Homo sapiens: one gene and its partners. The protein of the gene in region 4 interacts with the protein of the main gene of each other region in a pairwise test. Each region holds a gene or a part of one and is shown on either strand. Other genes may lie near its edges.

The links.
Region 1: the proteins of JADE1 (region 4) and HMOX2 interact in a two-hybrid assay, tested with the Homo sapiens proteins (one large-scale study listed by BioGRID and IntAct).
Region 2: the proteins of JADE1 (region 4) and PFDN1 interact in a two-hybrid assay, tested with the Homo sapiens proteins (one large-scale study listed by BioGRID and IntAct).
Region 3: the proteins of JADE1 (region 4) and UBE3A interact in a two-hybrid assay, tested with the Homo sapiens proteins (3 studies listed by BioGRID and IntAct).

Annotation. Positions count from the first base shown.
Region 1 is NC_000016.10:4,500,355-4,503,984, reverse strand, and holds part of HMOX2 (heme oxygenase 2), read right to left. Parts: intron 1,242-3,630; exon of another isoform or gene 1,026-1,241; intron 1-1,025.
Region 2 is NC_000005.10:140,247,732-140,251,144, forward strand, and holds part of PFDN1 (prefoldin subunit 1), read right to left. Parts: intron 1-3,413. UniProt on the Homo sapiens protein: Binds specifically to cytosolic chaperonin (c-CPN) and transfers target proteins to it. Binds to nascent polypeptide chain and promotes folding in an environment in which there are many competing pathways for nonnative proteins.
Region 3 is NC_000015.10:25,432,438-25,436,067, forward strand, and holds part of UBE3A (ubiquitin-protein ligase E3A), read right to left. Parts: intron 1-3,630. UniProt on the Homo sapiens protein: E3 ubiquitin-protein ligase which accepts ubiquitin from an E2 ubiquitin-conjugating enzyme in the form of a thioester and transfers it to its substrates.
Region 4 is NC_000004.12:128,847,670-128,851,299, reverse strand, and holds part of JADE1 (protein Jade-1), read right to left. Parts: intron 2,321-3,630; coding exon 2,133-2,320; intron 1-2,132.

The DNA of each region.
Region 1 (3,630 bases), on a different chromosome or scaffold from region 4:
ATGAATAGCAGCACAGTAGCACCGACAACTAATAAAGTAACTCACAAAGACAGAACTGGGGCCAAATCAGGCCAAACTGGGCCAAGGAAAAAGAACTTATTTACTGAGCATTTTCTATGTGCTCTACCCAGAAACAGGTGTCAAGAAGAACACAGAAGTGTTAAGAAATGGTCCTTAAAAGGCCCAAGGCACATATCCTTCCTGAGTTTTCTCTAGATACCTAGTTACATTTTTGTTATCTTTTAGGATATTATAGTACATGGTTTGCTCACTGAGGTCTTTTTGAACCATCTCTCTCACCTTTAGATTTAGCATCTCTACTGGGATTATTTTAGGAAGTCAAGCAATAACTCATATAGCACAATGCCTACCATGTGATAAGCACTCAATGAATGTTACATCATGATCATACTTTATTTTGACTGAGGCTTAGTGATGTCTGAGAACACTCAGAAAATAAACATCGGGATGTACAGAAAAATGGAACCTTCTCTTGACTCCAAATCAGAGACACTCTACTCTGCAATAATGCTGATGAACTGTACGATGCACAGCACAGTCTAGAAGAATGTGAAAGCAGGCAGGTATTACATGCAGGGAAGAGTATGCAGAGGGCTTCCTGGGGCAGGACCCTCAACACAGACAGGATTTGGGGCAGGGCTGGGGGAGGGCCTCCAGATCAAGGGAATATTATGAACAAAGCCAGAAATGGGTAGTTCACAGAGATAGCATAAGGCTGCCCAGCTGTGCGTCCACTTACCAAGGGGCAAAAACAGGCATTGCAAGCTGTAGAATAAGCCTCACATGGGCCTTCAGACCTTGATTTATAAATGTTTTCTTTTTTTTTTTTGGTAAAAGTACAGCTTTGCTAGCCGGGCGCGGTGGCTCACGCCTGTAATCCCAACACTTTGGGAGGCCGAGGTGGGCAGATCAGGAGGTCAGGAGTCCGAGACCGGCCTGGCCAACATGGTAAAACCCTGTCTCTACTAAAAATACAAAAATTAGCCAGGCATGGTGGCACACACCTGTAATCCCAGCTACTCAGGAGGCTGAGGCAGGAGAATCGCTTGAACCTGGGAGGCGGAGGTTGCAGTGAGCCGAGATGGAGCCACTGCACTCCAGCCTGTAATCCCAGCTACTTGGGAGGCTGATGTAGGAGGATTTCTTGAGCCTGGGAGACAGAGGTTGCAGTGAGTCGAGATCATGCCACTGCACTCCAGCCTGGCCGACAAAGTAAGACTCTGTCTCAAAAATAAATAAATAAAATACTTTAAATAATAAGAACAGCTTTGCTGTACACCCTTGAGGACCCTGAGAGCCAAAATTTGTCTCTGGCTGCTCAGTTCTCAGGCAGCAGAGAAAAAGGTGCTGGGATGAAAACACTGAGCTATCTAGAGGAGGGAGGGGTGCAGTAAAGGGTCCTGGAGCCTCTAGATGGGTGATGGAAGTAAAGGACCAGGCTGAGGGCACACACACACCAGGCTGAGGGTCCAGGTACCCCAGGACCACAGGCCCCATGCTTCTTACAGGCAAAATGAGGCAAAGACAAGTGCCATCCATGGCCCAGGTTACCAACTGCAGTAACTTCAGCGTGCTTCTTGCCATTTGCACCTACTTATCATGCTGCACAACAGTGATAGGGAACGTGATTAAATCTCATTAACTGTGTTTTACTCAATAATAACTGCATGCTCTGGGAGAGTATAGTCTTGCTTAATTAAACAACAAGTCCTTGTGCTTCTCCGAAAAATACAAAAAGGAGCCAGGCACAGTGGTTCGCACCTATAATCCCAGCATTTAGGGAGGCCGAGGTGGGCAGATCACCTGAGGTCAGCAGTTCGAGACCAGCCTGGCCAACATGGTGAAAGCCCATCTCTACTAGAAATACAAAAATGAGCCAGGCATGGTGGTGGGCAATTTTTTGTAATCTGCTGTCCACGACTTCAAATTTTCTACACTCAAAATAGGTTCTACCGATTTTACTTTGAAGGAAAGCTAACAGGAAGAATACTGAGTTCTCAAGGCGGGCTGAAAGTACCAACTACCATCTGTACAGACCTGGGGGCTGGGGGCAGAGGAGGCTCCTGGGAAGGCTCGGTTAGCATATTCAACCCACAGACTGGGGCCAGGGGAGGCGACCCTGTGGCCTAGCCACTGTCCAAGGGAGTGGCCACACAGTGTGGCATTCAGAGGCCACCTTGCAACTGCAGAAACATAATTTTTTTTCACTTTCTGAAAAGCTACATGTCCAGACTTAGTCTGGCTGGTTTCTATACTTGAATGCTCTTTTCTTTGCAGGAACCATTGGAATCTCTAGAAAATTGAGGGCCAAATCATAAATATAGAACCTTTTTAGACTTCAATGTCTAATATCCACAAGAAGCTACATGTTCCCCACCCCCACAAAAGAGAAAAAAAGATCCTAAAATATTCCACTCTGGGAAATACACTTCAAGAAATAGTAATAGTAATTGTAATCTGTATCAAAATAATACCCAGCCATACTATGATGTTAGGAAAAAAACAACACACAGCCTAAGAACAAAGGGCATGACTGCTCAAACAACAGTCAACAATGGAATCCTGGCACAGCCGGGGCAAGTTGATAAGCTGTGTTCATGCATGGAAAAGCCTACAGAAACTTTTTATTTTTTTAAAAAGGATCCCAAACACCGACTATAACTGTGTGCAAAAGTATACTGATAATGACAAGTGGGAAATTTGGAGAGCTATAAATACTTGTTTTTTGTTGGACTTTTTAGCCAACTGGCTGCTTCTTTTATATGGAGTGACTCAATTCTCTTGGAAAGAAAAAGGGAAGAGGGAGGGGAAGGCAGCGAAGGGAAGGGAAAAAAGAAACCGAGAGACAGGAATTGGACCAAGCAAACCAGCTAAGATCCCGCACTGCATTAACTAACTAGTCAATGGAAGCTCCTGGGTCCTCTTTTCTGTTACAAATTCTAGAAAGGCCAGTCTACCCTCTCTCTTTCCCATTTCCAAAAAACTGGGACCCTCTGTTTATAAAATCTACCTCCACTACTCCATAATTCCAGTACTCCTAGCTGTTCACCTCATCAGCTGCTGATTCTCATTCCAACACCTGAGCTAACAGAAGCAGTAACAAAGTTCCTATCACAGTTACTTCAAGCAAAAGAGGTTCCTTTAGACCAGCTCAGCAGATCCAGAACACTGTCTCAAAGCTTTTGCTCCTGCTAAATTGCTGGCATGAGGCACTACCAGGACTTCTGAGACAACGAAGATGGTAAATCCTCCTCCATGGAGACTAAGTCCAACAAATTTCAGGTCAGGTAACTCAGTGCATTGCTACCAGGTGGGAATATAATCTAAGGACTATATTATAATTCATTTCCCATCTGGTCATACAGAAAGGAACAATAAAGACTTCTTTGCCCTGGAGAAACCTGAACTGAAGGAAGAGAGCAGGTTGCTGAGCTCAGCCAGCACCGAGAGTAAGCAACAGCAGACTGACTCACTCCCTGGAATGAGAACAATTCTGCAGGCTTCTGACTCAATGAAATAGTGACACTTGACAGTGACCAGCTACTACACTGCATGAGATGCCCACAACATGAACTCGGGTTGTTACCCCACAAACACAGGGAGGCTAAG
Region 2 (3,413 bases), on a different chromosome or scaffold from region 4:
AGTTTAAGACCAGCCTGGCCAACATGGCAAAACCCTGTCTCTACAAAAAAATTAGACAGGTGTGGTGGGGGCACCTGTAATCCCAGCTACTTAGGGGCTGAGGCAGGAGAATCACTTGAACCCAGGAGGCGGAGGCTGCAGTGAGCCAAGGCCATGCCATCGCACTCCAGCCTGGGCAACAAGAGCAAAACTCCAACTCATGGTGACCATGATAACCATTCAATCCAATGCCTGCAAATGCATACTGCTGCTAAGGAATTTTAATTACATTGCTAAACCAAATACAGTCCTATCACTGTGATATCAGAGTGGGAATTTAAACTTCCTTTGATAAACAACTCTTTTTTTTTTTTTTGAGACGGAATCTCGCACTGTTGCCCAGGCTGGAGTGCAATGGCGCCATCTCGGCTCACTGCAACCTCCGCCTCCCGGGTTCACACGATTCTCCCGCCTCAGCCTCCCAAGTAGTTGGGATTACAGGCACACACCACCACGCTGGCTAATTTTTTCTATTTTTAGTAGAGATGGGGTTTCACTGTGTTAGCCAAGCTGGTCTCAAACTCCTGACCTCGTGATCTGCCCGCCTCGGCCTCCCAAAGTGTTGGGATTACAGGGGTGAGCCACCGTGCCAGGCCGATAAACAACTCTTAGACTTTAACTGTGGTGAGCTGAAAAAAGGCAAATACTAGTAAGCCCTGACACACACTAAAGAATGTATGTCCACTGGGTGTCACAAAGAGGGGAGCAATAGCTCGGTGCCATACACCACCTGGGCACCCTGTGGACCCCATGTGAATGCAGGGGAAAGGCGAATGGAATAAGCCCACTTCTCCTCCTACAAAAGTCCGCCAGGGCCCAGGGACTCTGGTCTGTTGCATTCAATCTCTGCCAACTTGCTGCCACAGCTGGCAAAACCATCAACTTGGAACATCAGCAAGAGCTCTTCTGCCCTCCCACCCAGACTCCCCAGCCAAACTCAGGCTATACCTCTCAGCTTTAAAAATTCCTTCTTCTGTAAAATCTCTGCTTTCTAACACTTTGATGAATTTTACCACTGCATATCCTAAAGTCTTCAGGTTTCCAAACAATGATGCAAATTAACATATCTATCTATATTTTTGTTTTGTTTCTAGAAATGGGGTCTTGTTATATTGCCCAGGCTGGCCTCAAACTCCTGGGCTCCAGCAATCCTCTTGCCTTAGAGGCATGTGCCACGATACTGCCTTCATCTTTAAATTTTTAATTAGTTTAAATAAACGTAGTAGACATTTCTTAAAAGAAAAAATTCCAACAGGACAGGACATCCCTAACATAGTGGACCTTTCTAACTGTATTTCAATAATTCCTGTCTCAGTCCCCAAGCATATTTAAGCCCAGAAGACTCTCATCATAATCAAACCCAGAACAAGGCACCTGTTGTGGGTTGAACTGAATTTGACAAAAAGATATGCTGAAGTTCTAATCTCTGGTAATTTGGAAAGAGGATCTTTGCAGATGTAACTAAGTTAAGATGAGATCATATTATATTAGGGTGGGCCCTGAATCCAATCATTAGTGTCCAAACAAGATGCTGTGAAGACCAATTCGTGGTAGCTTCAAATACAAGTAGAAAACCAAGTAGAAAACCAACACAATACCTGAAATGAGGGATGCCCCCAGACACCAATTCTACCACAATTATTTGGGGATAAGTATGATCCTAGCTTATAAAGTTTTAAGGGCAGTTACCCAGGCCTCTGCAATTCAGTATGGTCAGAGGCGTGGCAGGATTGGTCCTGTGAGTGCAGAAGAACCTTGGGAGGCCTCTGTCTCCACGGGTGTCTTAGTCTGTTTGTGTTGCTCTAAAGGAATACCTGAGGCTGGGTAATTTATGAAGAAAAGAGGTTTGTTTGGCCCACAGGTCTGCAGGCTATACAAGCATGGTGCAGCATCTGCTTCTGGAGAGGGTTTCTGGCTGCTTGCATTCGTGGTGGAAGGCGAAGGGGAGCCACCTGTACAGAAATCATGTGGCCAGAGAGGAAATGAGAGAGGAGGTGCCAGGCTCTTTTCAACAGCCAGTCAGTGAAGAAACAAAGCATGAGAACTCACTCCCATGAGAATGGTACCAAGCCATACACAAGAAACCCGCCCCCATAATCCAAACATCTCCCACCAGGCCCCACCTTCAACACTGGGGATCAAATTTTTTTGCGGGGGTTGGGGGGGTCTGGGGGTACCAAATTTCAACATGAGACCTGCCAGGGGGCAAAGAAACCCTATGCACACCACAGCAGGGGCATCCTTCATTTCCAGTGCGGTGCTGTGCTCTTGGGTAAGGGCACTAACCCCATTTAAAGGGCTCTGCCCTCATGACCTACTCATCTCCCAAATGGCCACACCTCCTAACACCATCATCTCAGGAGTTAGGATTTCAACAAAGACTTTAGGGAGAAACAACTATTCACACCACAGTACTTTTCAACTTCCAAGAAGCCATGCATGCATGGTCTTGGTTTCAGCTAAATCTCCGACCTCACCTCCAACAACTCTTCCCCGTCACTCCTTCAGCTCCAGTCACACAGGCCTCCCATGCTGCTCCTCCAATCCACCAGGTATGTTCCTGCCTGGCCTTTGCCCTTCGCTGTGCTCTCCATGTAGAAGTTCTCTTCCCCAGATATTCACATTACTCATCCCCTCACTTCCTTCAGGGCTTTCTCAAATGTTACCTTATCTGCGAGGCCTTCTTGAGTACATGCTGCCCAATACTCCCTATTCTCCTCACCTTGACTCTTCTCCAGAGCTCTTTCCACCACAGGAAGGAGAAACTGTCTGGCTTCCCTTATGAGACGGAAAGGTCCACAAGGGCAGGACTTTGTTCTGTCACCTGATACGGTCCTACCGTCTAGAAGAATGGCTGGCACATAATAGGAATTTAATGTTTGTTGAATAAAGTGCTTTAGTGTGGGAAATGACGCCTTACTGATGTACACACACTTTTTAGTTTTCCCTCCCAACTTGAATAATCAAGGAACGCCCAACAGAAGAAGCAAAGGCAGAAAATGACCATTTTCCTTCAAGGTGGTTTTCAGCTTTCGGCATTGCCCTCTCACCCCCTGCCCCTGGATATACACAGATTTAAAACTCCAACCTATCACTACAAACAATGTCAAGTATTTGAGGTAATGAATATGTTAACTAGCTTGATTTAATTATTCTACATTATATTCTTTTTATTTTTTTTTGAAACAGGGTCTTGCTCTGTTGCCTAAGGTAGAGTGCAATGGCATGATCTAGGCTCACTGCAAACTCTGCCTCCCAGGTTTAAGCAATTCTCCCATCTCAGCCTCCCGAGTAGCTGAGGATTACAGGTGAGTACCACCACACCCAGCTAATTTTTCTATCTTTAGTAGAGACGGGGTTTCACCATGTTGGCC
Region 3 (3,630 bases), on a different chromosome or scaffold from region 4:
AGAAGTACAGCAATGGTAGCATCTTCATTCAGCCCACAGCTATGTAATTTGTATGCAAGAGTGCTTGTCTTAAATATGAAAAGGAACATCCTGAATTGCTGAAAGTATATACAACGGGCACACATCCAGAACTAGGAAAGAGCTACCAAGCCTGCATGCTACGAAGACATGGGTCAAAAAATTTTTCTCATGTTTGGTTTCTATAACTAAAGTCTGTGCTAGACTAACCTCAATTGATCCTGAGGAGATGAACTTCTGGAACACACAAAACTGTTAAGAGTCACAGCATTAGACTCTACACTGTCCAGCCAACAGTTTTAAGAAAAATTTTATCCTACTTGTATGAGTGTTCAGGGCTCATATACTACCTCTATGCTCTTACTTGAAACACAGATGCAGACCTTAATAAATAAAGTCTTACATCAGACTCTCTTCTATAATTCACATGTGATTCCTTACACGAGATTCCTGTTCAGATTTCCTGAAAATGAACTATAGGAATAATCTTATCCAATATGATTCTATGTCCCCTAAAAATATCTTTTCCTTTCAGGTCAATCTTATGATTCACTTGCCATTGATCAGATTAACACAACAGGTCTGGTACAGCAAATTACAAAAGAGATTTGACTTTTGATTAATACACTGAATAATGTATCACAAACTATTAAGATCCATTGTCCATGTCAAATGGAGTTCACATATTTAAAATGAATTCACACACTAAAAATTCCCCAAAACAACGTTTCTAAAAAGTTTTTTTTTTTTTCTTTGAGAGGCAGTCTCACTCTGTCGCCAGGCAGTAGCATGATCTTGGCTCACTGCAACCTCCGCCTCCCGTGTTCAAGCGTTTCCCCTGCCTCAGCCTCCTGAGTAGTTGGGACTACAGGCATGCGCCACCACGTCCGGCTAATTTTTTTTTTGTATTTTAGTAGAGATGAGGTTTCACCGTGTTGGCCAGGATGGTCTCGATCTCCTGATCTCGTGATCCGCCCGCCTCGGCTTCCCAAAGTGCTGGGATGACAGGCGTGAGCCATGGCACTTGGCCTCTAAAAAGCTCTTAATCTACATTTTCAAGAATGATCACGTTTGAAAAGCATACTCTTTTAAAACAAAGCAACTATCACTTTCATTTGACAAAAGAAGGAACGAAGGCTTCAAAAGCTAAATAACCTGCTCATGACCATTACGAAGCTAGTTAAAACAACCTCAAGACCAAAAGACAGTGCTCATTCCATTTCAATGACTCTGATGCACTTAAAATTTTATAAATAATTTTTAGGGATATCAGTCATAAGGCTTAGAATCAAATAGTAACGACTCATGTACAAAGACCAGTATTTTTTAAAAATGCTCAGCTGGGCATGGTAGCTCACACCTGTAATCCTAGCACCTTGGGAGGCCAAGCCGCTTGAGACCAGGAGTTTGAAACCAACCTGAACACGGCAAGACCCCATCTCCACAAAAAAATTAAAAAATAAAAAAATTAGCCAGGCATGGTGGCATATGCTAATCCCACCTACTCAGGAGGGTGAGATGGGAGGATCACTCCAGCCTGAGACTGCAATGAGTTATGACAGCACCACTGCACTCCAACTTGGGCAACACAGCGAGACCCTGTCTCTAAACAAATAAACAATAAGTAAAATAAACAAAAAGAAAATGCTAACTTTACTTCACTCTCAGATAGGCCTAATAATTAATAAGCTTCTTTTTGAATTATTATCCATAATGGCATTTACCTGTTATTGATAACTCAGATCAAAGCACTACTAAGCAACATTTTTGATAGCAAATGAAAACAAAAGCTGGCAAAGAAACTGTGTATTAATAAGTCATTTGATTAAAAAAAAGGACTTGGCCAGGTATTGTGGCTCATGCCTGTAATCCCAACACACTGGGAAGCTAAAGTAAAAGCTGAGGAGTTCAAGACCAGCCTGGGCAACACAGTGAGACCCCCATCTCTATAAAACAAAAATTTTTAATATTATCTTTTTACAAAGGACTTATTTATATGGCATCTTCAAGTATTTCAAACATTTCGTGTTTGGATTATGGAATATGTCTCCAGAAGAATTAACACTATTTCTATTTAAGGTAATTTTACATCATTTCCTTTATTAGAAGAAATAACAGATCTGCAGATGGCATTTTGTGAAGGCTGCCTTCTATTAATAGTGTACAAAACACTCATATGTCTCCAAAAAGGTGGGTGAGTAATCACAAAGCAAGTATAACTATTCATCCCAAAAGGTAGGACAGAACATGTGCCAATGTGTGCAGAGTCCTGAACTAGAGACATGGACTCTGGTTCTGGTTCTGACACCTGGGTGACTTTAAGAAAATCATTTTAAAGCTTTGCACTCCAATTTCCTCTTGTATAAAATGACTGGAGCAGCTGACCTCATAGACAATCCTACTCAGGTAGCATCTATCCATGTACTGCCAGAAGACAGAATGATAATCATGCCCCCCAAAATTAGAGTATTTGAAGACAACTGCCGGAGTAAAAATTTTAAATTCTATATACATACACACACACACACACACACACACACACACACACACACACACACACACACAAATACTAATACACTACGTGCCAGATACTGGGGTGGTGGGCTGGGACCAAGGAATGAAGTAATGCATGTGCCAGAGGGTTGAACTTTTTAAAAGGAGTAAAAAAGTAAATCTTTACAGTAGCAGCTGGTGGGTAGGAGGTATTGAGTCCATAGAACTGCTCTTAGATTGGAAGGGCATGGGAAAATGAAGTTCCATTATGTGATAGGGTTTTACACACACACACACACACACACACACACAAATGTGAGAAAGTCACTCAACTATAAGCATTCAAAAAAGACAGACATCTTTCTTGTCTTTGTGGGTCCTGTACTTAGCTCAGCTCATAGAAGCCACAGGAGGAACCTAATAAATGTTAGTTGATCATTTACTGATTTACCAATAACCAATTCATGCCTGCTCTAGTGCTGTGGTCTGAATGTGTCCCCCAAAATTCATGTTGAAAGCCTAACCTCCAAGGTGATAGTATTAAGAGGTGGGGCCTTTGGGAAGCTTTGCCATCATTAATGGAATTAATGCCTCTATAAAAGAGGCCCTATAGAGCCCCGTCTACTCTTCTACTACATGAGGTAATGGTGAAAAGACAGCTAGCTATCTATGAACAAGGGAAGAGGGCCCTCACTAAGATGTCAAATTTGTTGGTACCTTGATCTTGGACTTCTCAGCCCCCAGAACCGTGAGAAATAAACTTCTGTTGTTTATAAGCCATGCTGTCTGTGGTGTTTTGTAATAGCAGCCAGAACAGACTAAGACATCTAGTAACACATTCTCTGGTAAACACTAGGAATTCCTGGCCTTAAAAAGTTCATAGCTAATGAGAAAAGAAATAAACAACATAAAGGATAACATGCTGTAGTCCACTACATACAAGGTGCTTCCAGACCATTCAGAAAAACTGGATAGGAAGATTTCTAAGGTAATACTTATTGAGTGCCTACGTGTTAGGCGTTTTACATACTTTAAGCCTCACAACTCTGGGGAAGTTTCACCAACCCATTTTACAGATGACAAAACTGTGGCTTACCAAGATTAATAAGGCCAGAATTA
Region 4 (3,630 bases):
TTAAATGGTTTATCCCTCCTCATCCTCTTACTTCTACAAGGTTGAAAAACATAGTTAACCAAATGCAAAAAAGACTGAAACACCAGGCGCGATGGCTCATGCCTATAATCCCAGTACTTTGCAGGTAGATCATTTGAGGTCAGGAGTTCACGACCAACCTGGCCAATACGGCGAAATCCTGTCTCTACTAAAAATACAAAAATTAGCCAGGCATGGTGGCAGGTGCCAATAATCCCAGCTACTTGGGAGGCTGGGGCAGGAGAATCGCTTGAACTCAGGAGGTAGAGGTTGCAGTCAGCCGAGATTGCACCCCTGCACTCCAGCATGGGCCACAGAGCGAGACTTCATCTCAAAAAAGAAAGAAAAAAAGACCAATAACAGCTAAGACAAACATATTTAAGCATGCGTTCCGTTTATGTTATAAAATTACAAAATTAATCTTGCCAATGTATTCAACAGTATCTTCAAATATGGATTAGCCCAGTTCTTATTATTTAAACCATTCATAAATGCGAAGAGTCTTTGGGCTGAGTCCTCTGACTTAACACAGGACACCTAGATTCCAGTCAAGTGTATTACACTGGTCTTTATAATGTGCTTACAACACAGCAGAAACTGTATCATCTGTGAAGCTAAAATTTAGTATTCAATTCCAAAAGATCTCTGAGAACTCCTGAACTCATGCCATAAAACCACCTTGTGGCCTGCTAATGTTTTGGCCATTAATACCTAAAGCAGGACCAAGAAGAAGGAAGTCTATTTTGTCTATAAAAACACTTGAGTAACTGAGCGAGTAGAAGACAACACCATGCTCAGCTCAGTCTACATTATCACTCCCATTCAACAGGTGGTGAGCCTAATGGCAGGACAAGCATCTACTGCAAGCCACACCCTATGCTACGTTCCCTGGAAAGACGCAAAAGGTCTTGGCCCTTCAAGGCTGTGAAATCCACCATGACAAAAATCTTGTGATTTTTTTTTTTTTTTGAGATGGAGTCTGGCTCTGTTGCCCAGGTGGGAATGCAGTGGCACAATCCCGGCTCAAGGAAACCTCCACCCCCTCAAGTGACTTGAGAAGAATCACCTCAAGTGATTCTTCTGCCTCAGCCTCCTGAGTGGCTGGGACCACAGATACCCACCACGACGCCTAGCTAATTTTTGTATTTTTAGTAGAGACGGGGTTTCACCATGTTTGCCAGGCTGGTCTTGAAGTCCTGACCTCAGGTGATCTGCCCACCTTGGCTTCCCAAAGTGCTGGGATTACAGACATGAGCCAACAAGCCCGGCCGATCTTGTGATTATTTACTATGTCCTAGATTACAATACATGGCCCTTGCCACCACCTCCCCACCGTGTACCTACAGCACAAAAGCTAATTAATCCTCACAGTTTTTCACACTGAGCCCAGACTTGACTCCACTGTCTTGTTCATCAAGACCCTCAAGGCAACCCTTAGCAATCAGGACTGGCATGTGAGATGAGACCTATACGCCATCCCAGTCTCAACACCATGAGATGCTCCAACGTCTACATACGCTAAAATGAGCTTGCAGAAAAGAGGTGGAGAAGGGCTGGGCACACAGCTAATGTCAGGCTTCACTGAAGGAAAGCCAGGACAGAGATAAACGGAGGGAAAAAGAACTCCAGGTTTGCAGCATGACATAAGGAAAATCGCTCAAGTTAAAACACACATGATGTGCTTGGAAATGGGGAGCATGCCTGGAAGAGTGTTCATTTAGAGAAGCAGCAAACCACGGCTAAAGAAGGAATCCGAATGGCATCACAGGAAAAAAACACTAGAGCAGGTAACTGTGGGCCATGCCCTTTTGTCACTTCGTTTCCCTGGACTTCAGCTTCCTTAAGGTAAGTGAATGAGGGAGTTAGATCAGAGCGGGGATGGGAATCCCTGGTGCCTGAGCCGAGGAGCCTTGCTTCCACTCTGAAACCATCTCAGCACATCTGACACAGCCAAACAGGCTGAGATCTAAGGCAGGGCTGCGATTCTCACTGACTAAAGCTATGATGGAGCTGCCTGCAACTGGCAATAAGGAGCTTTCTGCTACTCACCTACCTGCCTAAAATGTCTCTATTCATCATTGGTTAATAAAATAATAGAATACATGGTCTCTCACCCATCTCCTTAAATTCTTCATTGGTCAGTTCCAGCCATGCAGCATCCATGTCATTGAGGTCATAGCGACACACGCTGTCAGCCAGCGTCCGGATGTCCACATAGCCCAACTCGGGAGGCTCAGAGCCTGATGACACGATGTACTTCTTGGGCCTGATGAACATGAGGGATTTCTCTTCAGACACAACCCTGGATAATAAAAAAACAAGGCAGCCAGGTTACCCTTTCAGCCACAGACAATGAAGTGTGCCACAAGGCCCCAAATGTCTTCCTCTTCCAACCCTTAGAGCCCCAGGTCATCACCAGAGGCTGAAAACCTGAATGTCACTGCTAATAAAACCTTAACTAGAAGTTGTTAAAGCCTGCTAACAGGCAATAGATACAAATGAAAACACTGTAGAAGCCTTCAAAATCTGCTTCCCGGGACCCTGCTGTGCCCTGCCCACCACCTCTGACCACTCTGGCCTGCAGCCAACACCAAAACACACTGACCCATACATTTCAAGAGTTAGTCATTAAATCACTTTCCCTTAACCAGACCTGCCCATCCCTGCTGGAGGCCATTAGAACCAGGGCACCACACAGGCAGGGCAGGCGCAGCAGACTCTGAGAACCAGAGGGAGAAACCCGCCAACCCTCACACCTCACAAAAAAAAAGAGGGAGAGAGGGAAAAGAAAATCAGGCCTTGGGCTGGGGCAAGGTGGCCCAAGCCTGTAATCCCAGCACTTTGGGAGGCCGAGGCAGGCGGATCATTTGAGGTCAGGAGTTTGAGACCAGCCTGGCCAACACAGTGAAACCCCATCTCTACTAAAAATACAGAAATTAGCCAGGTATGATGGCACACGCCTGTAACCCCAGCTACTCGGGAGGCTGGGGCAGGAGAATTGCTTGAACCCAGGAGGCGGAGGTTGTAGTGAGCCAAGATTGCACCACTGCACTCCAGCCTGGGCAACAGAGTGAGACTGTCTCAAACGCAAACAAAAAAAAGGAAATAAGACCCCGGCCATTACCAAAAAATCTAAGAAACAGAGTCCCAGCCAAGAAGGGGACTGACTCTCCCAACATATACCCATGATCCCAGGAACAAAAGCACAAGTTTCTCCTCCTGGTACTGCCACACAATCTCTCCCGACCTTTAACACCTGGAGTGGTGCCTTCCAACTCACCCCACTCAAAATAAGACTGCATGTGCAAGAGCAAATCACTCCCGACTTGGAACCAAAAAAAGGCCATCTTCCTAATCACAGACCCCAGGCCTCAACAAAGTCCTTCCACATATGCATTTCCACAGTTTAAATTACTGTCAACAGGCTGCCCAGAGTCTGTCAGAGTACCTTCATCACCCTTATATTACGGGAGTGATTTTATCTACGTGACACTGACATGGACAAACTGAAGGGATTTATTTCTCCTACTCAGCCAAGAGCAGGGATCCAACTTGCTCAGGGCTCCAACTTTAATACAGCTTGTAAAACTTCCACAAGCTGTATTAATGCTC